7 linked regions of the Homo sapiens genome follow. The protein of the gene in region 2 purifies or fractionates together with the protein of the main gene of each other region. This does not show direct contact. Each region holds a gene or a part of one and is shown on either strand. Other genes may lie near its edges.

The links.
Region 1: the proteins of INA (region 2) and POC5 purify together in Homo sapiens (co-immunoprecipitation; one large-scale study listed by IntAct). This does not show direct contact.
Region 3: the proteins of INA (region 2) and CEP170 purify together in Homo sapiens (co-immunoprecipitation; one large-scale study listed by IntAct). This does not show direct contact.
Region 4: the proteins of INA (region 2) and CNTROB purify together in Homo sapiens (co-immunoprecipitation; one large-scale study listed by IntAct). This does not show direct contact.
Region 5: the proteins of INA (region 2) and RAB11FIP5 fractionate together in Homo sapiens (co-fractionation; one large-scale study listed by BioGRID). This does not show direct contact.
Region 6: the proteins of INA (region 2) and CDK5RAP2 purify together in Homo sapiens (co-immunoprecipitation; one large-scale study listed by IntAct). This does not show direct contact.
Region 7: the proteins of INA (region 2) and CCP110 purify together in Homo sapiens (co-immunoprecipitation; one large-scale study listed by IntAct). This does not show direct contact.

The regions. Positions count from the first base shown.
Region 1 is NC_000005.10:75,700,438-75,703,937, reverse strand, and holds part of POC5 (centrosomal protein POC5), read left to right. Parts: intron 1-1,127; coding exon 1,128-1,333; intron 1,334-3,500. UniProt on the Homo sapiens protein: Essential for the assembly of the distal half of centrioles, required for centriole elongation. Acts as a negative regulator of centriole elongation.
Region 2 is NC_000010.11:103,283,638-103,287,137, reverse strand, and holds part of INA (alpha-internexin), read right to left. Parts: intron 104-3,500; coding exon 1-103. UniProt on the Homo sapiens protein: Class-IV neuronal intermediate filament that is able to self-assemble. It is involved in the morphogenesis of neurons.
Region 3 is NC_000001.11:243,126,282-243,129,781, forward strand, and holds part of CEP170 (centrosomal protein of 170 kDa), read right to left. Parts: intron 3,173-3,500; coding exon 3,079-3,172; intron 2,020-3,078; coding exon 1,968-2,019; intron 458-1,967; coding exon 168-457; 3' UTR 1-167.
Region 4 is NC_000017.11:7,935,206-7,938,705, reverse strand, and holds part of CNTROB (centrobin), read right to left. Parts: intron 2,469-3,500; exon of another isoform or gene 2,377-2,468; coding exon of another isoform or gene 2,341-2,376; coding exon 2,224-2,340; intron 2,006-2,223; coding exon 1,889-2,005; intron 1,543-1,888; coding exon 1,444-1,542; intron 1-1,443. UniProt on the Homo sapiens protein: Required for centriole duplication. Inhibition of centriole duplication leading to defects in cytokinesis.
Region 5 is NC_000002.12:73,092,449-73,095,948, reverse strand, and holds part of RAB11FIP5 (rab11 family-interacting protein 5), read left to right. Parts: intron 1-3,500. UniProt on the Homo sapiens protein: Rab effector involved in protein trafficking from apical recycling endosomes to the apical plasma membrane. Involved in insulin granule exocytosis. May regulate V-ATPase intracellular transport in response to extracellular acidosis.
Region 6 is NC_000009.12:120,405,668-120,409,167, reverse strand, and holds part of CDK5RAP2 (CDK5 regulatory subunit-associated protein 2), read left to right. Parts: coding exon 1-41; intron 42-699; coding exon 700-821; intron 822-1,919; coding exon 1,920-2,156; intron 2,157-3,500. UniProt on the Homo sapiens protein: Potential regulator of CDK5 activity via its interaction with CDK5R1. Negative regulator of centriole disengagement (licensing) which maintains centriole engagement and cohesion. Involved in regulation of mitotic spindle orientation.
Region 7 is NC_000016.10:19,550,925-19,553,908, reverse strand, and holds the end of CCP110 (centriolar coiled-coil protein of 110 kDa), read right to left. Parts: intron 2,714-2,984; coding exon 2,638-2,713; 3' UTR 501-2,637; downstream 1-500.

The sequences.
Region 1 (3,500 bases), on a different chromosome or scaffold from region 2:
ATGATTCGCCCACTTCAGCCTCCCAAAGTGCGGGGATTACAGGCATGAGCCACCGTGCCCAGCCTTTCAGTGCTTTTTTAGAAATAGATACCTGTTCTCTTTAGGGCCCTGACTCTCCCCCACCTCCCTGGATATGGGCAGGGGATGAGCGTTTTATATATATGCACATACATATAGAGATGTGTACATTTCTCACCTCTACATTGAAGCCTAACAGTGTACTTAACAACAGAGTATCTGCAAAACTAAATTATGAGTCTCTTTCTACTTAAATTGTTTAATTTTAATAGGTTTTTTGTTTGTTTTTGTTTTTGGAGACAGAGTCTCATTCTGTCACAGGCTGGAGTGCAGTGGCACGATCTCGGCTCACTGCAACCTCTGCCTCCCTGGTTCAAGCAATTCTCCTGCCTCAGCTTCCCGAGTAGCTGGGACTATAGGTGCGTGCCACCACACCCAGCTAATTTTTGTATTTTTAGTAGAGATGGGGTTTCACCTTGTTGGCCAGGATGGTCTCAATCTCTGGACCTCATGATTCACCCGCCTCGGCCTCCCAAAGTGCTAGGATTACAGGCATGAGCCACCGCGCCCGGCCGAATTTTAATAGTATTAAAACCAATCCCAGTGTTAAACTTACAGAGTAATATTGACCTATATACAACCACACTGACCTTGGTCAATTACTTAACTTTTTCTGAACCTCAGTTTCTCATCAGTAAAATGGAGATAATAATACCTATTTTTTAGGGTAGCATGTGTTATGAGAACTAATCTTTATAATGTTTTTATTACAGAAACAGAAAGCACTTCATTAATGGTGATATGATACAGATGATGATAGTTTCACCTCAGGCTGGACCTGGATATATGAAGGATCCTTATCTGGGATAGAGGTCATTTGCTGGGAGAGAAGGGATTGGGAGTATAGGAGGTATCTCATGCCAGTCTGTGCTAAATCACTGACAATACTGAAATTAAAAATAGATTAAGGTACACCTGAAAGGTAGTTTCTCTGCATTTTTTCTCAGCCTCCATAAGTAGCAGACGTCTTTTAGCCTTCCAGTATGGTTCCTTACCAACTTGAGTTATTTTCAATTTGGCTTGACAGCTACAACTTTTCTTTTATTCAGAGTCATCACCAGTGTTATCGCCAAGGAAGCCTTCTCACCCAGTCATGGATTTTTTCAGTTCACATCTTTTAGCTGACTCTTCCTCACCAGCAACAAATTCTAGTCATACAGATGCCCATGAAATACTTGTGAGCGATTTTCTTGTTTCTGATGAAAACCTTCAGAAGATGGAAAATGTGCTTGATCTTTGGAGTTCAGGTCTTAAGGTACGGTACAGCAGTTCTTCAATTACAGTTGTTTAGTATGTAATGTAATAGTTTTACTCTCATTTATACTGTTTTGTTTTTTTGAGTTAAACTTTCTAAAAATCTTTTGTTTCCTGAGATCAGTTTAGTGTCTTAAGTCTTGCTTCTCAATCTTTAATGTACTTACGAATCATAGCGGGAGCCTGTTAAACTACAGCTTCATATGCAGTAGGTCTTCAGCAGGGCCTAAGATCGTGCTTCTTTTTTTCTTTTTTTGACTCTTGTTTGTTTGTTTGATTTTACTTTAAGTTCTGGGATACATGTGGTGAACATGCAGGTTTGTTACATAGGTATACATGTGCCATGGTGGTTTGCTGCACCTATCAACCTGTCATCTAGGTTTCAAGCCCCACATGCATTAGGTATGTGTCCTAATGCTCTCCCTCCCCTTACCCTCCACCCCCTGACAGGCCCCGGTGTGTGATGTTCCCCTCCATGTGTCCATGTGTTCTCATTTCTGTCAAGCTCCCAGGTGTTGCTACTGGTTCAGAAACTGTACTTTGAGTTGCCAGGTTTTAAGTGGTTGCTGGAACGGTTCTACATGCTCCATTGAATTTCACAGATACTTTGAATGGCTCAGCCTGTGTGTAACTGAGACATACTGTGCCTTTACCATATCGTAGTTGTGACTAATAGAAATGTCTCCTTTTATGCAATAACGAAAGATCCAATTTTAGCAATGGATATTCATTTTATAGCCACTCCTATAGCAACTATGATGTGTAAGTGATAAAACTATAAAAGTTGATTTTTATTTTGATACTACTGGCCTTTAAGTAAAACAAAGTATTGCAGAAATAGTAAGTGGGTTTTATTTATTTATTTATTTATTTATTTTTATTATTATTATACTTTAAGTTTTAGGGTACATGTACACAATGTGCAGGTTAGTTACATATGTATACATGTGCCATGCTGGTGCGCTGCACCCACTAACTCATCATCTAGCATTAGGTATATCTCCCAATGCTATCCCTCCCCCCTCCCCCCACCCAACAACAGTCCCCAGAGTGTGATGTTCCCCTTCCTGTGTCCATGTGTTCTCCTTGTTCAATTCCCACCTATCAGTGAGAATATGCGGTGTTGGGTTTTTTGTTCTTGCGATAGTTTACTGAGAATGATGATTTCCAGTTTCATCCATGTCCCTACAAAGGACATGAACTCATCATTTTTTATGGCTGCATAGTATTCCATGGTGTATATGTGCCACATTTTCTTAATCCAGTCTATCATTGTTGGACATTTGGGTTGGTTCCAAGTCTTTGCTATTGTGAATAATGCCGCAATAAACATACGTGTGCATGTGTCTTTATAGCCGCATGATTTATAGTCCTTTGGGTATATACCCCGTAATGGGATGGCTGGGTCAAATGGTATTTGTAGTTCTAGATCCCTGAGGAATCGCCACACTGACTTCCACAATGGTTGAACTAGTTTACAGTCCCACCAACAGTGTAAAAGTGTTCCTATTTCTCCACATCCTCTCCAGCACCTGTTGTTTCCTGACTTTTTAATGATTGCCATTCTAACTGGTGTGAGATGGTATCTCATTGTGGTTTTGATTTGCATTTCTCTGATGGCCAGTGATGGTGAGCATTTTTTCATGTGTTTTTTGGCTGCATAAATGTCTTCTTTTGAGAAGTGTCTGTTCATGTCCTTTGCCCACTTTTTGATGGGGTTGTTTGCTTTTTTCTTGTAAATTTGTTTGAGTTCATTGTAGATTCTGGATATTAGCCCTTTGTCAGATAAGTAGGTTGTGAAAATTTTCTCCCGTTTTGTAGGTTGCCTGTTCACTCTGATGGTAGTTTGTTTTGCTGTGCAGAAGCTCTTTAGTTTAATTAGATCCCATTTGTCAATTTTGGCTTTTGTTGCCATTGCTTTTGGTGTTTTAGACATGAAGTCCTTGCCCATGCCTGTGTCCTGAATGGTAATGCCTAGGTTTTCTTCTAGGGTTTTTATGGTTTTAGGTCTAACATTTAAGTCTTTAATCCATCTTGAATTGATTTTTGTATAAGGTGTAAGGAAGGGATCCAGTTTCAGCTTTCTACATATGGCTAGCCAGTTTTCCCAGCACCATTTATTAAATAGGGAATCCTTTCCTCATTGCTTGTTTTTCTCAGGTTTGTCA
Region 2 (3,500 bases):
CAAGAGCCATTTTGACATTGAGCAAGTCCTGGTATTCCCGAAGGTGGCGTGCCATCTCACTCTTGGTGTTCCTCAGATCATTCTCCAGCTGCCCAATGCTATCCTGAAAAGTAACATATCCAAAATAGTTAGGCCAAACCAGCTGAAATTCCTCAAGATTTCCAGAAGGCAAGGATTCCCAGCCCTGACTACACATTAAAATCATCTAATGAACTTATAACTTGCTTATATCCAGGTCTGTCCCTGAGTCCAGATCCAGATTCACTGGTTCTGGGGTGGGGTCCCAGCATTTGCATTTTTTTCATAAAGGTCCCCAGGAGATTTGGACTCATGGTGAGGACTGGGAACTTTTACCCAGAGGGCAAGTGAACACCTGCCCTTTTCAGGATAGCCACACGGCATATAGTTCTGAACTGAACATGGAGATGATTTTTTTTTTTTTTACACTTACCATCCCTCCCTTGCTTGTTGTGTTGCTGCTAAATAACTCTGTTGTAGCATGTGCTTTCCAAAACCCAAAGCCTCAGGTTAGCAGCTTAGATTCAGAAAATTCCGAATGTGGAAAGCACAGAGAGCTTTCCAGGAAGACCTCTCTGCCTCCATTCATTTTGATGATTTCCTAGAAGCCTGCTAATCAGTCACTTTACTGAGAGCATTTTACATTATAGGTAAGGAGAAAGCAGAAATACTCCACAGAATTTTTAAAACACCGAGGCATGGAAGAGAAATCGCTTTATATTTATATATTTATAGTCCTTGAGCAGCCAGAAGGAATTCTTTTTTTTTTTTTTTTTTTTTTTTTGAGACAAGGTCTTGCTCTGTTGCCTAGGCTGGAGTACAGTGGTGTGATCACAGCTCACTGCAGCCTCAAAATTCCTGGGCTCAAGCGATCTTCCTGTCTCAGCCTCCCAAGCAGTTGGGACTAACAGGTGTACACTACCATGCCTGGCTAGTTAAAAAAGATTTTTGTTTTGTAAAGATGAGGTCTCATTATGTTGTCCAGGCTGGTCTTGAACTCCTGGCCTCAAGAGACACTCCTGCCTTTACCTCCTAAAGTGCTTAGATTACATGTATGAGCCACCATGCCCAGCCTGGTCTTTTCTTTTACTCCTTAACTATACCAAGTTCATTGCTGTCCCAGGCCCTTCAGGCTTGTTATTTCCTCTATCTAAAATGCCGGTCTTTACATGGCCGACTCCTTGTCATAGAAGATTCAGTTCACCCGGGTGTGGTGGCTCACACCTGTAATCCTAGCACTTTGGGAGGCTGAGGCAGGCAGATCACCTGAGATCAGGAGTTCAAGACTAGCCTGGCTAACATGGCAAAACTCCGTCTCTACTAAAAATACAAAAATTAGCTGGGTGCAGTGGCATGCACCTGTAATCCCAGCTACTTGGGAGGCTGAGGCAGGAGAATCGCTTGAACCCAGGAGGGGGAGGTTGCAGTGAGACGAGATCGCGCCACTGCATTCCAGCTGGGCAACAAGAGCGAAACTCCATCTCAAAAAAAAAAAAAAAAAGATTCAGTTCAAATGTCCTCTCCTGCCAGGCATGATGGCTCATGCCTGTAATCCCAGCACTTTGGGAGGCTGAGGTAGGAGGATCACCTGGAGTCGGGAGTTCGAGACCAGCCAGACCAACAAGGAGAAACCCCGTCTCTACTAAAAGTACAAAAATTAGCTGTGTGCAGTGGCAAGCGCCTGTAATCCCACCTACTTGGGAGGCTGAGGCAGGAGAATCGCTTGAATCTGGAAGGCAGAGGTTGCAGTGAGCTGAGATCGTACCACCGCACTCCAGCTTGGGCAACAAGAGCAAAACTCTGTCTCAAAAAAGATTCAGTTCAAATGTCCTCTCCTGCCAGGCACGATGGCTCATGCCTGTAATCCCAGCACTTTGGGAGGCTGAGGCGGGAGGATCACCTGGGGTTGGGAGTTCGAGACCAGCCAGACCAATATGGAGAAACTCTGTCTCTACTAAAAATACAAAAATTAGCCGGGCGTGGTGGTGCATGCCTATAATCCCAGCTACTAGGGAGGCTGAAGCAGGAGAATTGTTTGAATCTGGGAGGCGGAGGTTGCAGTGAGCCGAGATCGTGCCATTGCACTCCAGCCTGGACAACAAGAATGAAACTCCATCTCAAAAAATAAAATAAAATAAAATAAAATAAAATATAATGTCCTCTCCTCAGACAGGTCTTCATTTGCATCCAATTTAAGTATCCATCCTCGACCAACCCAGCACTTTATTTTACCTTAAGCCAGAGCAGCTACTGGCCCATGCAGGAACCTTGTGCAAATTAGAAAAAAAGCACTCAGTTGAATGCAGCCACCCTGCTCTCAGCTCTTACCATTATATGAAATTATCTTCTTCTTTTTTTTTTTTTCCGAGATGGAGTCTTGCTCTGTTACCCAGGCTGGAGTGCAGTGGCGCAATCTCAGCTCACTGCAACCTCCACCACCTGGGTTCAAGTAATTCTCCTGCCTCAGCCTCCTGAGTAGCTGGGATTACAGGTGTGCACCACCACACCTGGCTAATTTTTGTATTTTTAGTAGAGATGGGGTTTCACCATGTTGGCCAGGCTGGTCTTGAACTCCTAACCTCGTGATCCGCCCGCCTCAGCCTCCCAAAGTGCTGGGATAACAGGCATGAGTCACAGTGTCCGGCCCCGGCAATTTACTGGTTTATACTAGTTTATTTTCTGTTGCTTTCCTCTATAACAGAGTTTTACAACTTTGGCAGTGTTGATGTTTTAGGCTGGCTAATTATTTGTTATTGTGAAATGCGGGATATTTAGTAACATCCCTGGCTAGATGCCAGAAGCACATACTTCCCTCTCCCAGTTGCGATAACAAGAAAACATCTCTAGGGCATCCCAGCACTTTGGGTAGCTGAGGCAGGCGAATCACTTGAGGCTGAGCTGAGAGAATTGCTCGAGCCCGGTAGGCGGAGGTTGAAGTGAGCTATGATGGCGCCACTGTGCTCCAGCCTGGGCGACACAGCAAGACCCCGTCTTAAAAAAAAAAAAAAAGACACAATGATTGGGGGTTATTTTTAAGAAACAGTCATGCAGGGCCGGGCATGGTGGCTCATGCCTGTAATCCCAGCACTTTGGGAGGCTGAGGCGGGTGGATCACCTGAGGTCAGGAGTTCAGGTCAATCAAGAGACTGAGACTATGCTGGCCAACATGGTGAAACTATGGTCTCTACTAAAAATACAAAAATTAGCTGGGCGTGGTGGCGTGTGCCTGTAATCCCAGCTACTCTGGAGGCTGAGGTAGGAGAATCACTTGAACCTGGGAGGCAGAGGTTGCAGTGAGCTGAGATCGTGCCATTGCACTCCAGCCTGGGCAACAAGAGCAAAACTCCATCTCAAAAAAAAAAAAAAAAAAAGAAACAGTGATGCAGATAAACATATCAGAAACCTCAAGAAAGTAAGTGTTGACAGGCCCTTGAAACTCCCCTTGTGTGAGAATGATAAAGCAATGGTGAAAGGTAGGGCTG
Region 3 (3,500 bases), on a different chromosome or scaffold from region 2:
TTGATATACTACATTATACGTCAAAAATAAATAAATAAAATTAAGAAGACAGGGATTCCAAGATTGTAGCTGACCAAGCTGTCTTGTTTTGCGTACATCAACACTATGCTGCTTCCAATATTCCTAGCCATTCCACAGGTAATGATTTTTCAACAATCAAGAGAAAGTCATTCTTGTACTGTAACATCTTCCTCTTCCCCATCGGGGTTGAATCTATTGAAATGTATACTGAAATCAGCCTCAGATTCAGCATTCTCAAATTCAGCTGCGGCTGAAACAGCAGCAGGATGAAGAGCCCTAGCTTCTGGTTGGCCAAGTGTTGGTGTCTGACCCGGGCTGTGGTGGTTATTCACAGGGCTGGACTTCTGTTTCGGTGGAGATGGCAACATAGCACTGGGAAATCCCATGTTGTTCAGAGCCTCCAAAGTTCCATCAGGATCAATCATAGCATTGATTGCTAAAGGGCGGGAAAAGGAAATAATTTTAGATGCAGTTACATTCACATATAAACACTGTTCATGATTTGGATAATATTTAAACTATCAGTGCGTATGTGATCTTAAATGTGGCTAATCTTCCAATATTATATTTAAAACTCCATTCTTAGTTATTCTGTAGCTGTACTGTAAATCACCCAGCCCTGAATACTTTCTCTGGGTCCTTTGATGTGGCACTTACGGGCATTTCAGAGACTTGTAAGTCTGGTATTTGAAGATGTGGAATTCAAGAAAAATCTTGTTGAAATTTGTCTTCATTATTGTGAGAGGACCGAGAAAATACTGAATATGATTTTTAATAAACATCTAAACCCACATCACTCAGATAACTGAGGTATTAGCTGCTAAGTCAGGGTTCAGAGTAACCTCAAGGCTGGAGAGGCCAGAAGAACATCAGCATACTTTGAATGCTACCATAGAATACGGTCATTTAGCCTGGCCAGAGTGCTAGGGTTATCAGCTGTATACACCACTGAGATACAGGGGTTCCCTCAGAGCCTACAGACTAATATCACAGGGCAGCTTGCAAAGCCAAACAGACTTGCTGCCTATATGGAAGGGGTCAGTTAAAGGTCAGCTTTCAGTCCAAAAGATCTTTGGGTTGACATGGAAAGTTCTCAGGCGGTGATTTTCAATTTGGCATTGGGCAGAGTAGGGAGTTGGGAGAAGGAAGTAACATAGATGTAAGAATCATGTAGAAGGGACTTTTAAAAGTATACCCCCAGTCTACCAGCTAACAAGCACTGTGTTAGCAAGCCACTTTTACTCATGGGGTGTACCATAACCCTTAGGTGTGTTGGGGCTAAATAAAGATGAAAAATCATTTTGATAGGATCCACATAAGTACCTATGATTATTCGATAGATAAAGACTCAGTAGAATTAGCAGTTGACTATGGAACCTGCCTGTTGTACCACTGGGGACTTCTGGGTCAAGACATACATAGGCATTAATGCACAGCCCAGCTCTGACAAGTTTAGAGGGCAGCCTCTTTCACTTTCTTCTCTCCTTTCTCTTCTGGTCTCTATGGCCAATATGTACTCATTTCTTGTCAACCAAACAACTATTATTTCTATTAGAATGTAAGTTTGTTTCAGGTTACACCACCAACATAATTTAAGAACTGTCAAATCACACAAATAATGCTAATTAACACAACTTTATTATATATTTTTCACATATTATTTATATGTAATACATAAAAAATTTCAATTAGTTTATGACATCTAGCCTACTGTCAAACCTATGAACTAAAATATGCCCAACATATATCTTTATTACATTTTAAATTTTTATACTGGGTTTAAAAAAATTCCTTTTTATGAATAATGTGAATGTTTGAACTCTGTATTTTATGTATGTCATTACATTTAATCAAATAACATCCTAACAATATTTTAAGAAATACCACTCAGAAGGCACTTATTCTAAATTATTAGCTCTTTATACTTAATTCAGTAGTAAATTTACCTTGCAGCTGCTTTTCTACTCTTTTCAGTTCCTGTAAGATAGAAGAAATCTCCTGCAGGGAAAGCAATAACAAAAATTAGCCTACTTTTAGCTAAATGTTATCACTTTACAAGCAATGAATTTCACTCTCACTTTATTTGGAACACTTAATATTATCTACATGGTACTTACTACATTAATAGCAACATGATATGAAATAATTATGATATCTAGCAAACAAGATTCAAATTAAAATATTTAAACTAAAATGAAATACAATAACTTTTTCAGTGAGATGATTGTAGCAGATGAAAAGTTTAACATTTACTACTATTTAAGCAAAGATTTTTTTTTTTTGAGACCGAGTCTCACTCTGTCGCCCAGACTGGAGTGCAATGGCGCAATCTTGGCTCACTGTAACCTCCTCCTCCCAGGTTCAAGTAATTCTCTTGCCTCAGCCCCCAAAGGAGTTGGGATGATAGGCGCCCGCCACAATGCCTGGCTAATTTTTGTATTTTTAGTAAAGACAGAGTTTCGCCATATTGGCCAGGCTGGTCTTCAACTCCTGACCTCAAGTGATCCGCCCTCCTTGGCCTCACAAAGTGCTGGGATTATAGGCGTGAGCCACAGTACCCGGCCGCAAAGATTTTTAAAATTCTTATTAATCAACCTTGCAATAACTATGTAAAAATGCCTTCAAATTATCTTTGTAAAAACATATAAACTGCAACCTCAATATTATAATTATATTCTGAGCAATGAAAATCTGTACAAATTCTTTTAAAAAGAAGATAAGCATTATATTAAGTAAACGGAAACGACTTATGTCAACTTAATATTTTCATGTTAGATTTGGTTCTCTTTAAAAATTTCATGTTTCTAATGTTTAATTATTACAAGAACAATCTATACTAGTAAGAAACACAAAAGGCTCCTCCTTCATACCCTCTGCAACTTTGAAACAATCAACATTTTAAACCTGTGAGTCAGTAGAAGAAATAAAATTTCCCAAAATTTTGCATTTATATCTTCTTTTGAAAAAGCAAATCAACGAACAGCTCAAAAATAAGGGTCTTTTCCTTAAAATAAAACTCTATTAAAATGTTTTAATCTTCAAGAAAAATTACTATACCATGCTTGAGGTTTTCACAATAGGGACTTCACTTTCGGCTCTTAATTTGCTTTCTATGTCATCCCAATTCCGATCTTTGTCTTTAAATAATATTCTATAAATCAAAAAACATAAGCATATAACTTTTTATATTTTAAAAACCTATTACTTTTTTGTTAATAATACCAAAGCAATGTATCTTTTCAAAGGTACACAAAGAAAAAAAACCAACCACCGCATAAACTGAGAATTAAAATACTAAGCCAACAGTACCAATTAATTCATGTGTATGAGCTCCAATTGAATGCTTATTAATACATGCATAAATTCTTTACTGTTTATCTTATTCTTTATTGAAAACAAAATATAAAACAAATGTAAATGATGTTATGACCTCAAAACTTTAATATTTATAATTTACAATACAGTAATGCCCTCTTATC
Region 4 (3,500 bases), on a different chromosome or scaffold from region 2:
AATCTCAGGTTCGAATCCTGGTTCTGGAATTTACTATGTGTTCTTAGGCATACATTCTTATCTGTAAACTGGAGATCATAACAGGGTCTGCCTTCTGAGCATTAAAGTAAAAAGCATATGTAAGGCATTTAGCACGGCATCAGGCACATAGTAAGTACTCAATACACAATAGTTACCACCATCATCGTCAAAAGAAATTCCACTAAGACTAGAATATCCAGCCTATAATCGTGAACCATCACCCATCATCATCAGGACTGTCAGATATAGCCTGTTAAGACTACAAGTACCAGCATGCATGTAGCAAGCATGCATTATGCATGCAACAAGTTCCAATCCCAGCTACTAATTCATATGGCTAATCACCTTATCATTTCAGCTCTAAGAGACTTGAGTGAAGTGGCTGGGTATGGTGGCTTATGCCTGTAATCCCAGCACTTTGGGAGGCCAAGGCGGGCAGATCACTTGAGGTCAGGAGTTTGAGACCAGCCTGGCCAACATGGCGAAACCCCGTCTCTACCAAAAAAATACAAAAATTAGCTAGGCGTGGTGGTATACGCCTGTAGTCCCAGCTACTTGGGAGGCTAAGGTGGGAGAATCGCTAGAATCCAGGGGGCAGAGGCTGCAGTGAGCTGAGATTGTGCCACTGCACTCCAGCCTGGACAACAGAGCGCGACCCTGTCTCAAAAAAAAAAAAAAAAAAACACGAAAAGAAACTTGAGTTAGTCAATTTCATACCTTTTTTGGCCATGCCCTACACCAGAGGTCCCAAACCAGATTGAAAAAAATCACCCAGGAAATTTCTGAAAAGATTTGAGTTCCACCATATATCTACTGAATCAAAACCTCTGCAGGTGAGTCCCAGAAATCTTTATTTTATTTTATTTTTTATTTTTATTTTTTGAGATGGAGTCTCACTCTGTCACCCAGGCTGGAGTGCAGTGGCTTGATCTCAGCTCACTGCAACCTCTGCCTGCTGGGTTCAAGCAATTCTCCTGCCTCAGCCTCCCAAGTCGCTGGGACTACAGGCATGCACCACCATGTCCAGCTAGTTTTTTGTATTTTTAGTAGAGACGGGGTTTCACCATGCTGGCCAGGCTGGTCTCAAACTCCTGACCTCATGATCTGCCTGCCTTGGCCTCCCAAAGTGCTGGGATTACAGGGGTGAGCCACCGTGCCTAGCCTATATTTTAAAATAATTCTTCAGATGACACTAATATTCTAATGATGATACAATTTGCAGAGTTTCTCAAACCGACTTGGTAGCAGAGCCTTTTTTTTTAATAGAATATCTAGCTGAATTAGTGTTCTAAGGAACACACTTTGGGAAACAGTGCTCTGGTGCAACTCAAATTATAATCTCCCACAATCCACCAATAGCCCACAGCTCTCTAGAAGTAATTAACAGCTTCCAGTGGAATTAACCCAGTCCAATCTTCTCACCAGTGTCTCTCTTTCCCGTTGCTGCAGTCTGGCACTTTCCTGCTCACGATTCAGGGCCTCCATGGCCTCAGAAAGGCTTTGTTCCAGGCGGGTTACTGTCTTTCAGGAAGAGAGGAATACAGGGCAGAGGAACTGTGGGAAATCTGTGTGTGCTATATTTTATAAAGCATTGACAATGTAAACTTGAAACTTCACAGTTAACTAAATGACTAAGGGGCCAGATAGAAGACTACATGGTGTGGGAAAAATTAAGACATTGATGATTCAAGTTGGACAGCAGAAACGGTTAAAGGAGAAGAAAGGAGGGATGAGAAGAAATGTCAGGACAGCCACTACAAGACTGAGGTCAATCTGTTGGAAACCCTAATTCCAGAGCTATTTCTGCCCCTTTCCATCTTGAGATCTGTGACTCAGGTTCTAATGCCATATGCTCCAGGGCGCTCACCTCCTGCTGCTTGCTTCTGGTGAGCTCTGCTGCCTGGTGTTCCTCTTGAAGTCCCCTGAGAACCTCTGTCCGCTCAGCCTCATGCCGGTTCCAGCCCTCCACCACACGGGCCAGGGTCTTAGGTAGGGCAAGTAAGATGAAATTTCAAAATAACTTTTTTGCCTCTTTCTACCCACAGGGGCAGGGTCAACAGCCATCTTCTCCCAACAGTCAGCAAACCAACCCCTTGCCCAGCTCTCAGCATGTACCAAGAAACATTGGTTGGCCACCCACTTATTTATTATTCCTTAATGCTCTTCATGGAGAGACCCACCCACATTTTGCTACCCTGGTACCTTGTCCAGTTGTTCAATCATGGTATCTTTCTTGCGGTCGGCAGCCACAGCCACGGCTAATTGTTGCTGTAGCTCTAACACTCGGGTCTGCAGGCTCTGAATATGGCGCTCACAATGCTGGGGAAAAGGGTGAGGAGTCTGGGTGTTGCCCATCTTTGGTATGACCACAGCACCAAACTTTCCAGCTCCTCTAGTGGGGGAGTGGGCTGGAGCCAAGAAGCTTGGGTCCCAAGAACAGAATAGGTCTGGAGAGGGAGAATCAGGAAAATTCTGAAGCAAGCACCTTGAGGCTCAAGATCTCCAACATGTTTCTGTACCTTTTCAGGAGATAAGTGCTTAGATTCCAGGCTCCTCCTTTTCCTGGATCTCCTGAGTAAAAATCCCATAAACCTTTTGGCAGAGATGCAGCAGCCCACACAGCAAAATGTGCAAAGTTACTCCTACCTTCAGAAGCTCATTGGACACAATGAATAAACACAGCAAGGATAAAGGGGAAAGCCTTTCATTCATGCCAAGGGGTTTAACATGGAGAAAGAGAGGCTTCCAAAAATGGCAACCAGTGATTTTGACTTTTCCTCTCCTTTGTCTATTTCTCTGTCCCCTTCAGACACTAAGGCAGAGGCTCACAGAGATAAAGCTCAGTATATCACCAGTAGCTGTAAATCCTGTGCACAAGCTAGCAGAGTTTGTGTCCATTCGACAAACACAGAGTGTTTCTGTGTTATGTATATTCTAGACCTTAGGCAGCCAGTACTAAGACAAACAAGATACGGACCCTCAAATTTTAGAGAGGAGAAAAAAACAAGATATATCAGAACGATAAGCTACATGAAAGAAATAAGAAGGCGATCTGACTACTTGGAAAGGAGGTGGTGCCATATTAGATGGAATGGTCAAAAAAGCCCTCCTCAGAAAAACATTTAAGTCCCAGCTTTCAGGCTCTTAACCCTCAGCCCTTTTCTTTTTTAGTTTTTTTTTTTTGAGACGGAGTCTCGCTCTGTCGCCCAGGCTGGAGTGCAGCGGCATGATCTCGGCTCACTGCAAGCTCCGCCTCCCAGGTTCACGCCATTCTCCTGCCTCAGCCTCCCGAGTAGCTGGGACTACAGGCACCCACCACCATGCCCGGCTAATTTTTTCTATTTTTAGTAGAGACGGGTTTCACCGTGTTAGCCAGGATGGTCTCGATCTCCTGACCTCGTGATCCGCCTGCCTCAGCCTCCCAAAGTGCTGTGATTACAGGCGTGAGCCACCACGCCAGGCCCCCTCAGCCCTTTTCA
Region 5 (3,500 bases), on a different chromosome or scaffold from region 2:
TTTGAGGGGCTAAGGACAGGACAAAACCCTGAGGTCCCCTCAGTGGCATCTCAGGGCTCTGTGCTCTGGGATTGTGCCAACCTTTTGAAAGGGGGTCTGGTCTTCAGGGTCTGTGATGTGTAGCCAGGCCTTTACTGGCCTCTGTCTTCTCAGGGTACTCAGGGCAGGAGTATATGCATTCTGCTTTTCTGAAAGTTGCTAAACCTTAAAGGTTAAGGACATGGGCTTGGAGGCTGGCATTTTCATGTTCAAGTTCCAGCTCCATTACTTACTAGCTGTGTGGCCCTGGGCAACTTACAAACCATCTCCACAACTTAGTTTCCTCATCTGTAAAATGGGCCTCCCATCTCCTGGGCTGGTTGCATGGATAATAAAAGAGCTGCAGAGCCAGGCACACAGTGAGCCCTCAGCAGGGTCAGCTCTGGCCATTCTCTAGCCCCCTCATGTGCAGCCCTCTGCTCAGGTGTGGCCTCTGGGCCAGCAGCAGCATGGGTAGCTGGGAGCTCTCTCAGGTCCACCTACACTTTGGGTATCAGAATACACATTTTAACAAGATCCAGTGATTTTTTTTTGCACTTTGCAGTTTGAGAAGCACTGATGTGTGTCTTCTGAAGAGCAGCATCAGTAGCTGCGTGTGCCTCTTCAGGTGCAAGGAATTTTCTCTTACTGTGCCTTTTCTTACTGTGTCCATCATGTCCTGGCTGCAGAGGCACCTGGGACAAGTCCCAGATAATCACCATCTTCATCAAAACCCTTGTGTCCTGAGCATGTGCTGGCTGGGCCTTGGAGAGTTCAAGTGCCCCAGATGGTGCCCCTGACAGAGAGATGAAGTCAAGGTGGGTGCTTTGCAGGTGGAGCAGCTTAGTTCCTGCAGTGAAGGATGTGCCAGTTAGTGATATATGTGCTGCAGGCAGCCCGGACTCTGAGCACCAGGTGGGTGTCAGGGGAATTGTATGGGGGCAGAATCACTGTCCTTCCTCCTGGTTTGGTGAGAGTGTTGTTTCTCCAGTGGTTTCTGATCTAGGAGGCCTAATTCATCTTAACACTCTTAATTTCTAGAAAGTGCTTAATGCTGCCTGCTCCTCCCCAGTGTGTTCCTTTGGTAACTTACCCCCTCCTGGGGGAGGGATGAGTATTTCTAGGGTCAGTCCTCTCAGAAGCAGCGTGTCCTCGGGACTTGGGAAGGCAAGCCTTACTGGGCAGGAGAAAGACACAGGTTTCTCCTGGGTACCGATTGAGTGTCCTTAAGGACAAGCCCAGGTGGAGAGCCCAGGTGGCCGCTGACCTTAAAGTGATGTAAAGCGTTAGGGACCATCCTTGTGGTTCCCACATGGGGTCTGGGTGAATTCACTCACCTGTGGGGCCCCACCCCCAAACCCACTGAGAAATATAGATAACCAGGCCGGGACCTTCTAGTTCAGTAAGTCTGGGTGGCGTCTTGGGTGGATTTATATCTGTATATAAATCCTGCACCGATGCATAGCAGGTTTGGGTGCTACAGCTGTGGAGCTGTGAAAATGAGAGCTGTCTTGTGAGCCATTGTCTAGATGAATGTTGGGGCCTTGGTCACACCCTGATTGATTTTGGCCATGTCTCTGCCCTGGATGAAAGTGACAGGTCAGGCCTCAGCTTGGGCTTTGGAGTTCCTAAGCCCAGTGCCCCAGTCAGCTAGGCCTGGTGAAGGGCACAGAGAGGGAGAAAAAACCTTGATCAGGTAGGGAGGAAGGAACAGTAGCAGAATCTCCAAAACTGGAGACCAGGGCCTATCTCTTGCACAGCCAGACTTGGGAAGTTGAGGTTGGATTTTTTTTTTTTTTTTTTTTTTTTTGAGACAAAGTCTCACTCTGTTGCCCAGGCTGGAGTGCAGTGATATAATCTTGGCTCACTGCAACTTCCGCTTCCCAGGTTCAAGTGATTCTCATGCCTCAGCTTCCCGAGCAGCTCAGATTACAAACGTGTGCCACCACACCCAGCTAATTATTGTATTTTTAGTAGACACGGGGTTTCGCCATGTTGGCCAGGCAGGTCTCAAACTCCTGGCCTCAAGTGATCTGCCCGCCTTGGCCTCCCAAAGTGCTGGGATTGCAGGCATGAGCCACCATGCGCGTCCGAGGTTGAATATTTATTAAAGGATCTGGCACGTTCCCTTGAAGGCTAGGCAGAGCGATCGGCGTCAGGGATTCAAGAGCAGGAGTCCTAAGAGCTCACGGTCGTGGGAGAGAGTGAGAGGATAAGCTGGTTTTGCCAACCAGGCTTGGCGTGCCTTAGCCTCCCAACAGCCAAGAGGATGGTTGTCCCCACCTGAGGGCCAAGGAAGCGGAGGCTGAGGGAGGTGACCTGGTCAGTGGGGGACCCAGCACTCACCACCATGCCCTGCTGTCAGGCGCATCCAGATGAGAGCTGAGAGAGGGCCCTGCAGGGTTGTAACAGCTCCAGACTGTGCATGCATGATTTCTTTACTTTGGAGCTGTGTGCCCCAGGGGATACTCAGTCAATATCCACAAGAAACACAGTCCAGCAAGGGAGACCTTGGGTGCCCAGGACATGACAACACCAGGGGGTCCTGGGGCACGGTGCTGCCAGATCTGGCTGTAGAGTGAGTTTGGTTCAGAGTGTGTATGCCTGGTCAGAAAGAGGAGGGACTGGGCCAGGCCAGCAGGATGGTGGCAGCTGAGGGAGCTTCCCAGAGGAGTGGGACTTGAACTAGGTCATAGGACCCTGCTGTCATATTCCCCGTGGGGGCTTCAGTCTCTAGGGATGAGGTGCTCAGAGCCCATTTGCTCTGCTGCGTGTGGGGCTCTGTGAAAAGAAAGCCTCCATTTGTTTTCATTGCGGATTCCTCAGCCCCCCTCGACAGTGTTCATAGTTTTCCATTCTCCAGTGGACCTCCATGGTGCCCGACAGGTCTGTGGGGCTGTCTGGTCCAGGCACAGGGAAGTAGCACCTCTAGGGAGGGGGAGGATGTGGCCATCTCAGCTCATGTAGGCCATACTTCTGGGAGAAGGTCTGCTCTGGTTGAGTCCCTGGGGTGCCCAGGGTGGCCAAGGTGCCAGGCAGTATCCCATTCAGTCCTGCCCTTGACTGGGTTGCAGAGGGAGGTGGGGCTGGAAGGGAGGTGGACGAGTGATGGCAGCTGGGGTCCAGAGGTAGGTCCTGGCCATTCTCCATTTCACTGTGCTCTGGATGGGAGAGCCTAAAAAATATTCAGGGAAGCTTTTTCTTTTTCCTTCCGTGCTTCCTTGAAAAACAAGTCCAGGGAGAAACCCAAATTCCCTGTGGGGGAGGGCTGGGCAGAACAGGAGAAGGGGAAGTGACCTTATAGGGGAGAGAGGCCCAAAAGGTCCTTGTGGCAAAGGACCTGAAACTCGGCCTCCCGCCTTCCTCTGAGGGCTGGGAGGCAGAGGAGCACGGCCCATTTTGTGGCTCAGGAAGCTGAGATGAGATAGGAGCAAGAGCTTTCCCTTGTCTCTTTTTCCTATTACCACAGTAATATATGCTCC
Region 6 (3,500 bases), on a different chromosome or scaffold from region 2:
CTGATCCAGGAGGTCCGCTGCAGCGGCCAGGAGCTGAGCAGGTAGTGGCTGTGCTTCCCTGGTGGCCTGCTGGCCGTACCACGCATGCAGGCACTGGGCTGCAGTCGTGGAATCAGCACGCAGGCCTCTGCCTTAGTGCACAGTGGCAGGCAGTAGACACAAACACATTGTACGTCTGGTGCGCCTACAACATATGGAGAAAGATCCTGTAAGGAGGAGAGGGCTTGGCAGTGGGTTGCTGTTTTTTGTCAAGGGTGAGTCAGGGAAGGCCTTTGTGAAAAGATGCCATTTGCTCAGAGAGCTGAATGCAGTGAGGAGGTGAGTGCTGCAGCTACCTGGGAAAGATCATTTCAGGCAGAATGGGCGCAGGCCCTGAGGCAAAGTGGCTTAGGCCTGTGCCGGACAGAGCAGGGCAGTGTATCTGGAGAGGGGGCTGGCAGGATACCAAATCACATCGGGCTGCAGAGTCAGTGTGAGGACTTTGGGTTTTCCTCTGAGTGGCATGGGAAGCCACTGGGAGATTCTGAGCAGAGGAGTGGAATTAGGATTAGAGAGCACATGGAATTCTTAACCATGCTTGTCACTTCTTGGTCCACACTCTTGTGACTGAGGGTGGAATTGGCCTGCTCTGTGGGGTTTGAATAAGTTACCCTGAGGTAGAATTAACCTGTCCTTCTCATGCCTGTGGGGCCTTCTCAGGGTGCAGGAGGAGGTGAAGTTGAGGCAGCAGCTGCTCTCACAGAATGACAAGCTATTGCAGTCTCTCCGAGTGGAGCTGAAGGCGTATGAGAAGCTGGATGAAGAGCACAGGAGACTGAGAGGTACTGAGGCCCTTCTCACCTTGAGGCTACTGTGCTTTGGGCTGTAAGACCACCCGACAGCTGGCTGTAGGCACAGGAGGGCAGAGCTCAGCCCTCTCCACTCTGGCCTTGTGGGTAGAGTGGATGGGTGTTGAAGCTAGCTCTTTGACCCACTCTTCTTCTGAAGGAACAGCAGGAAACATAGAAGGACTGAGGCTCAGCACCCAGGCCAGCCGAGGTCCGGGTTCCCACTCACTTGTTCCCAGCTATGTGACCCTCAGTAGGCCACTTCACCCTTTGAGCCCATACCTATCTCTGTAAAACATGTCTCTCAGCACCTGTTGTGTGGAGAATTGTGTTGAAAATTGAATGAGACCATTTATTAAAAGCATCCTAGCAAGATACCTGACACATAGTAGGCACCCAGGAAATGACCTTTATTATAATCGTCCTGCTAGTATATGTTACTTTTTGCCCACTCATTCAGCAAACATTTATGGACACCTCTCACGTGCTGGGCATTGCTCTGGGGATGGTTGTTGGCCTCGTTGCTCTCTGTATCCCAGGAGAGATACCAGCTCAGAGTGCTTCAACTATAACGTCTAATGTTTCAGAATCAATTTTGAGGTGTGGTGAGGTGTTTTTTTTTTTTTTTTATTTTACTAATTTTCCAGATGGTTTCTCTCTATTGAAAGTTTATCTAGAAAGGGGTCATCTCACAGCTTTTATTTTCTCCTCAACTTGCTTTTTTTATTCTTGCTGTTGTGTCTTTTTAATATAGTGTGGCTCTTAAAATCATCCCCTTTCATTCTATAATTCTAGCCCAAATAGATTTTATTACTACTAGACATAATTTCGGGGTTTGGTGTGCAATTTGCTAGGCTTTTATGGCCAGAAGCGAAAATTAATTTCCAGCTCTTATTTAGCGTGTGGAATAGCAGCAATTAAGTCTGCCAATATTTTTGTTTCTAAAGTCAAGTTGTTATTTTAAACTGTACCTAGTTCTTAGGAAGGGGGAGGGCGATGGTGGTGGTGAGTGTAAAATGCGATTGAGTTCCTTCGATGGCTGACCCTTTGGTTGTGGAAGATGTCAGGGCTTCTCTTTGCACATGTCCTCAGAGGCGTCGGGAGAAGGCTGGAAGGGGCAGGATCCTTTCAGGGACCTGCACAGCCTCCTGATGGAGATCCAGGCTCTGCGCTTGCAACTAGAAAGGAGCATCGAAACCAGCAGCACTCTGCAGAGCAGGCTCAAGGAACAGCTGGCAAGGGGGGCAGAGAAGGCACAGGAAGGAGCCCTCACTCTGGCTGTCCAAGCCGTGTCCATCCCTGAGGTGCCCCTTCAGCCTGACAAACACGGTACTGCCCCTGCCTCTCCCCACTTGCTGAGAATGCAGCTCTGAGCATCTGTGTGTGACATGTGAACTTCTGAATGATGCCTTTGCCCCACAGAGGTGTCTTTCCATTGATAGCTGACATGCTGTACCCTAGGAGCCAGGGGACCTGACTGCTAATTAATTAGCGGTCACCTTGGGCAAAGTGGCGTAATCTCCATCTGAGGCATCTTGATTCTCAGGGAAGTGGAATTTGGACTTCCAGACACCCTCAGTGCCTCTGGCCTTGCTCCCTCCTATCCATTTAGTCCTGCCTGCATCACTTTGATGCTGAAATTTCTTTTAGTTTCTCTTACTGCCTTTAGAAGGGAACCTAAACATCTTAATCTGGCTTTCAGTGTCTTTCAGGATCTGAAAATCATCCTGATAGGTTTAAAAAGTGGATCTGTTTTGCATTTGTGTGCAGGTTAATTGCCTAGCCCTGGAGAGGCTGTGGGGGGTACGAGAAAGAGGACCAGACACCTCTACCACCCGCCCACCCAGGGTGTGGAGCAAACCAGTAAATGGTTAGACTCCAAGCAATCAGGCAGCCTGTCCTCTTTGCTCTAGAGATGAAAAACAAAGGCCCAGAGAGTGGATGGGGCTTGCCCAAAGTGGCACAGCAAGTAGGCAGCAGAGCTGGAGCTAGAAACCATTTCCAGCTTCGAGTCCAGGGCTGTTCCTAAACCCCACTGGACTCTCTGGAGCGTTGGGTATCCTGGGATTATCATCCTGACACCCATAGGGTAAATGTGTGTATCCAGTGGGATGAGGAATGCCAGCCTGCTTTACAAGCAAGTATTGTACTAAAGTTTGGACTGACTTTTACTTGGATACCTCTAGTTAAAAAAATAAAAATAAATCTCTTAAGGAGCACCTGGTCAGTCCGCTCGTAGTGATTAGTTCATTGATTTCTCATTGACAAGGATCTTAAAATTTAATCAAAAAGATGATGTAATAATATGAAAAAAGTGAACAGAGAAAAAAAGTTCATGATTCTACACATTGATCATTTTTTAAAATTTGCATATTTTTTCATTTATTAAATATGAGCATGAATTTATATTTTTCAAATTGGATTTTGTGTCATTGTGTGTCCTTTCTTTGTTTTTGCCCAATATTACATCATACATGTTCCCTGTGCTTTCACATGGGCTTCCTAATGATTGTTTGCAGGCTATTCTCAGTCACCAATCCATGACCCCGTTGATTTATTAAAGTGGTCTCTGATTTGGAGCCATAATAGACATCAATGTTAATATGCTTTTTGCTGTTAAATAATATTCTTAGGAGAAAACCCTACAAGGGGAACCTCATAAGTTTGGAAAGG
Region 7 (2,984 bases), on a different chromosome or scaffold from region 2:
GTTTTGGAGACAAAGTCTCATTCAGGCTGGAGTGCAGTGGTGCGATTATAGCTCACTGCCACCTGTAACTCCTGGGTTCAAGTGATCCTCCTGCCTCAGCCTCCAGCGTACCTAGGACTACAGATGTGAACCACCATGCCTGGCTAATATCGGTTTCTTTTTTGTTTTGTTTTGAGATGGAGTCTTGCTCTGTCACCCAGGCTGCAGTGCAGTGGCACAATCTCGGCTCACTATAGCCTCCCCATCCCAGGCTCAGGCGATTCTCCTGCTTCAGCCTCCCAAGTAGCTGGAACTACAGGCATGCACCACTACGCCCAGCTAATTTTGTATTTTTAGTAGAGACGGGGTTTCACCATGTTAGCCAGGCTGATCTCAAACTCCTGATCTCATGATCCACCCACCTTGGCCTCCCAAAGTGCTAGAATTACAGGCATGAGCCACCATGCCCGGCCTATTTCTTAATAGTCCTTCCCCTGGTAAATAAAAACAATCAAACTAGATTTTCTTTAAGATGAAAAGTTTATTTTGCTTTTTGCCTAGAAGCAAAACTAGTGAAAATAAAAGTATAAAAATAAATACAATTTACATTAATGAACATTCCACTCAAAGTAAAAATAAGCAAAAAAAGTATATAAATAAAAATCCATCAAAAGCACAAACAGTGTCTGGCACCTGTATGAGAAGAAGCTATGAACACCAAAAAAGAATGTGTAAAACACAGGCTTTTATCTTTAAATTAAAAACACTCAAGTTTCTCATCCTTACTCTAAAGCTAGTTTTAACTTTCTCCAAAACTATTTGTTTTAACTAATTTGCATTACACACACAAAAAGTGCACAAAACTTTTAGCATCTTTCTTACTGGAGAGACCCACAATGCTATGAATAAGCTGTATCCTGAGTTTTCAGAATGATAAAGCACAGTTTATCATATTAAGAAGACAATTTGATACTTTGCCTATAAATTTTAAAAAATTGGTAACTTGGACTTTTTTTGACCATCTTCTAATTTTCTGGTTCACTCATTCAATACATGATACATCTCAATAAAGAAAATCAAGTTTACACCCAGGGTGGCTTATTATTTCTGTCTATAGCTGGATGTCAAAGTTAAATTTAAAATGGCACAGAAAATTGGAGAAAACAATCTTCATCTCCATATTCTTAAAAGGATATTAAGAATATATATAGGTTGCATTTTCAAAATACCAGTATCTCTTTAAAATTTAAATTAGATTAAATATACACTGTCTCAATTTTATGTGAAAAGCACAAAGCCCTTTTTGGAAATGGTATGATAAATTAATAGTGACATTCTCCCTCATGAAGTCACGTTATCTTGGTAACATTTGTTGGTTGATACTTTTTTTTTTTTTTTTTTTTGAGACAGTGTCTTGCTCTGTTAACCCGACTGGAGTGCAATGGCACAGTCTCAGCTCACTGCAACCTCTGCCTCCCAGGTTCAAGCAATTCGCCTGTCTCAGCCTCCCAAGTAGCTGGAACTACAGGCATGCACCACCATGCCTAATTTTTGTATTTTCAGTACAGATGGGGTTTCGCCATGTTTGGTCAGGCTGGTCTCAAACTCCTGACCTCAGGTGATCCACCCACCTTGGCCTCACAAAATGCTGGGAGTACAGGCGTGAGCCACCCTGCCTGGCCAGTTGATACTTTTAATGGATATGTTAGTGATGAAAAATCTTAAACATGGGTGTCTTTAAGCAATGCAGAATTTTAACCAGGCAATATTCTTATCCGGAAATCTGGATTTATTATTATATAGCCCTTTATTCTCTCCTAAATCAAGCATGCTAGAAAAAACAGACTATGAAGAACAAAATATACAGACTAAATAGAAAATATAACTGCATGCAACATATTATTATGTTACAGAAATGGATGTAATAATGCATTCCCAAGAGCTACATTCAAGAAGATTGTGCTGTCTTCCCCAAATTTGTTACCTGTCACAGAAAGATCTTATAACCTAGTACAAATGTTTCTAACAGTACTGGGGTAACATACATGAAGCCTAACATTTCTGTCAGACAACTAGTTGTCTGACAGGAATGTATGCTTCTGACCAAAATGGTGACCCACATTAACTTCTGTAGATTTTAGTGGGCCACAATTGGCTACATGGTTATACTGTAAGTCAAAGAAAGTGGACATTGAGTGGTTAATCCAAGTTTTTAAAGTTATAAAATGAGGGAAAGGCATTCTTCTGCAATAATTTCCCTTTGAATCAAATTCAAAAATCACTATGCAGAGATGAATTAAATTTATGTTTTAGAACTTATTTATAATTTGTCTTATCTTTTCAATATTCTGTAAAAGTAAATCCAAATGTCCTTGACATTTACAAAAAGGGTCTCTGTAGACATCTGGGCATATAAAATAAACTTATGTTTGTATAGGTAAGCACAGAGATGATGCAATTACTAAACACTAATTTGTCTTCACCCAAACGTATTATTAAGAGGAAAATAGGGGTGTGGAGCAGGAATTACCAAACTGACCAAATGATCCAGATAAGTGCTCAGCCTTCTGATGTCACTTTGTCTGTGTAAACGGAGTCCAGGGTTAAATAAAGTCTTGGGCAGGGAAAATAACATGAATAATAATCCTTCCCCCCATTTTATCCTAATGAATGTTGTCTTCTTAAATTGTCGCAACATTTGGCCGCTTTCTTTGGATTTTTCCTGCATATACTCCTAAAAATAGAGCAAAACCAGTATTACTTCTCAATGGGAGGTTTTCTATAATGATACCATTTAATGAGTTTTTACTCTGGAACAAACACTGAGCTAGGCAATATACATTATCATATTTAATCCTTATATGAATCATCCTGAGGTAGAAATTGTTATGACCATTTTAAGGATAATAAAACTGAGGCATAGGAGAGCAGTTGCCTAAGGAACAGAGCTAGAAGGAAGAACTCTGATAACCCAAGTCCACCTGATGTGTTATTTTACTTAACCA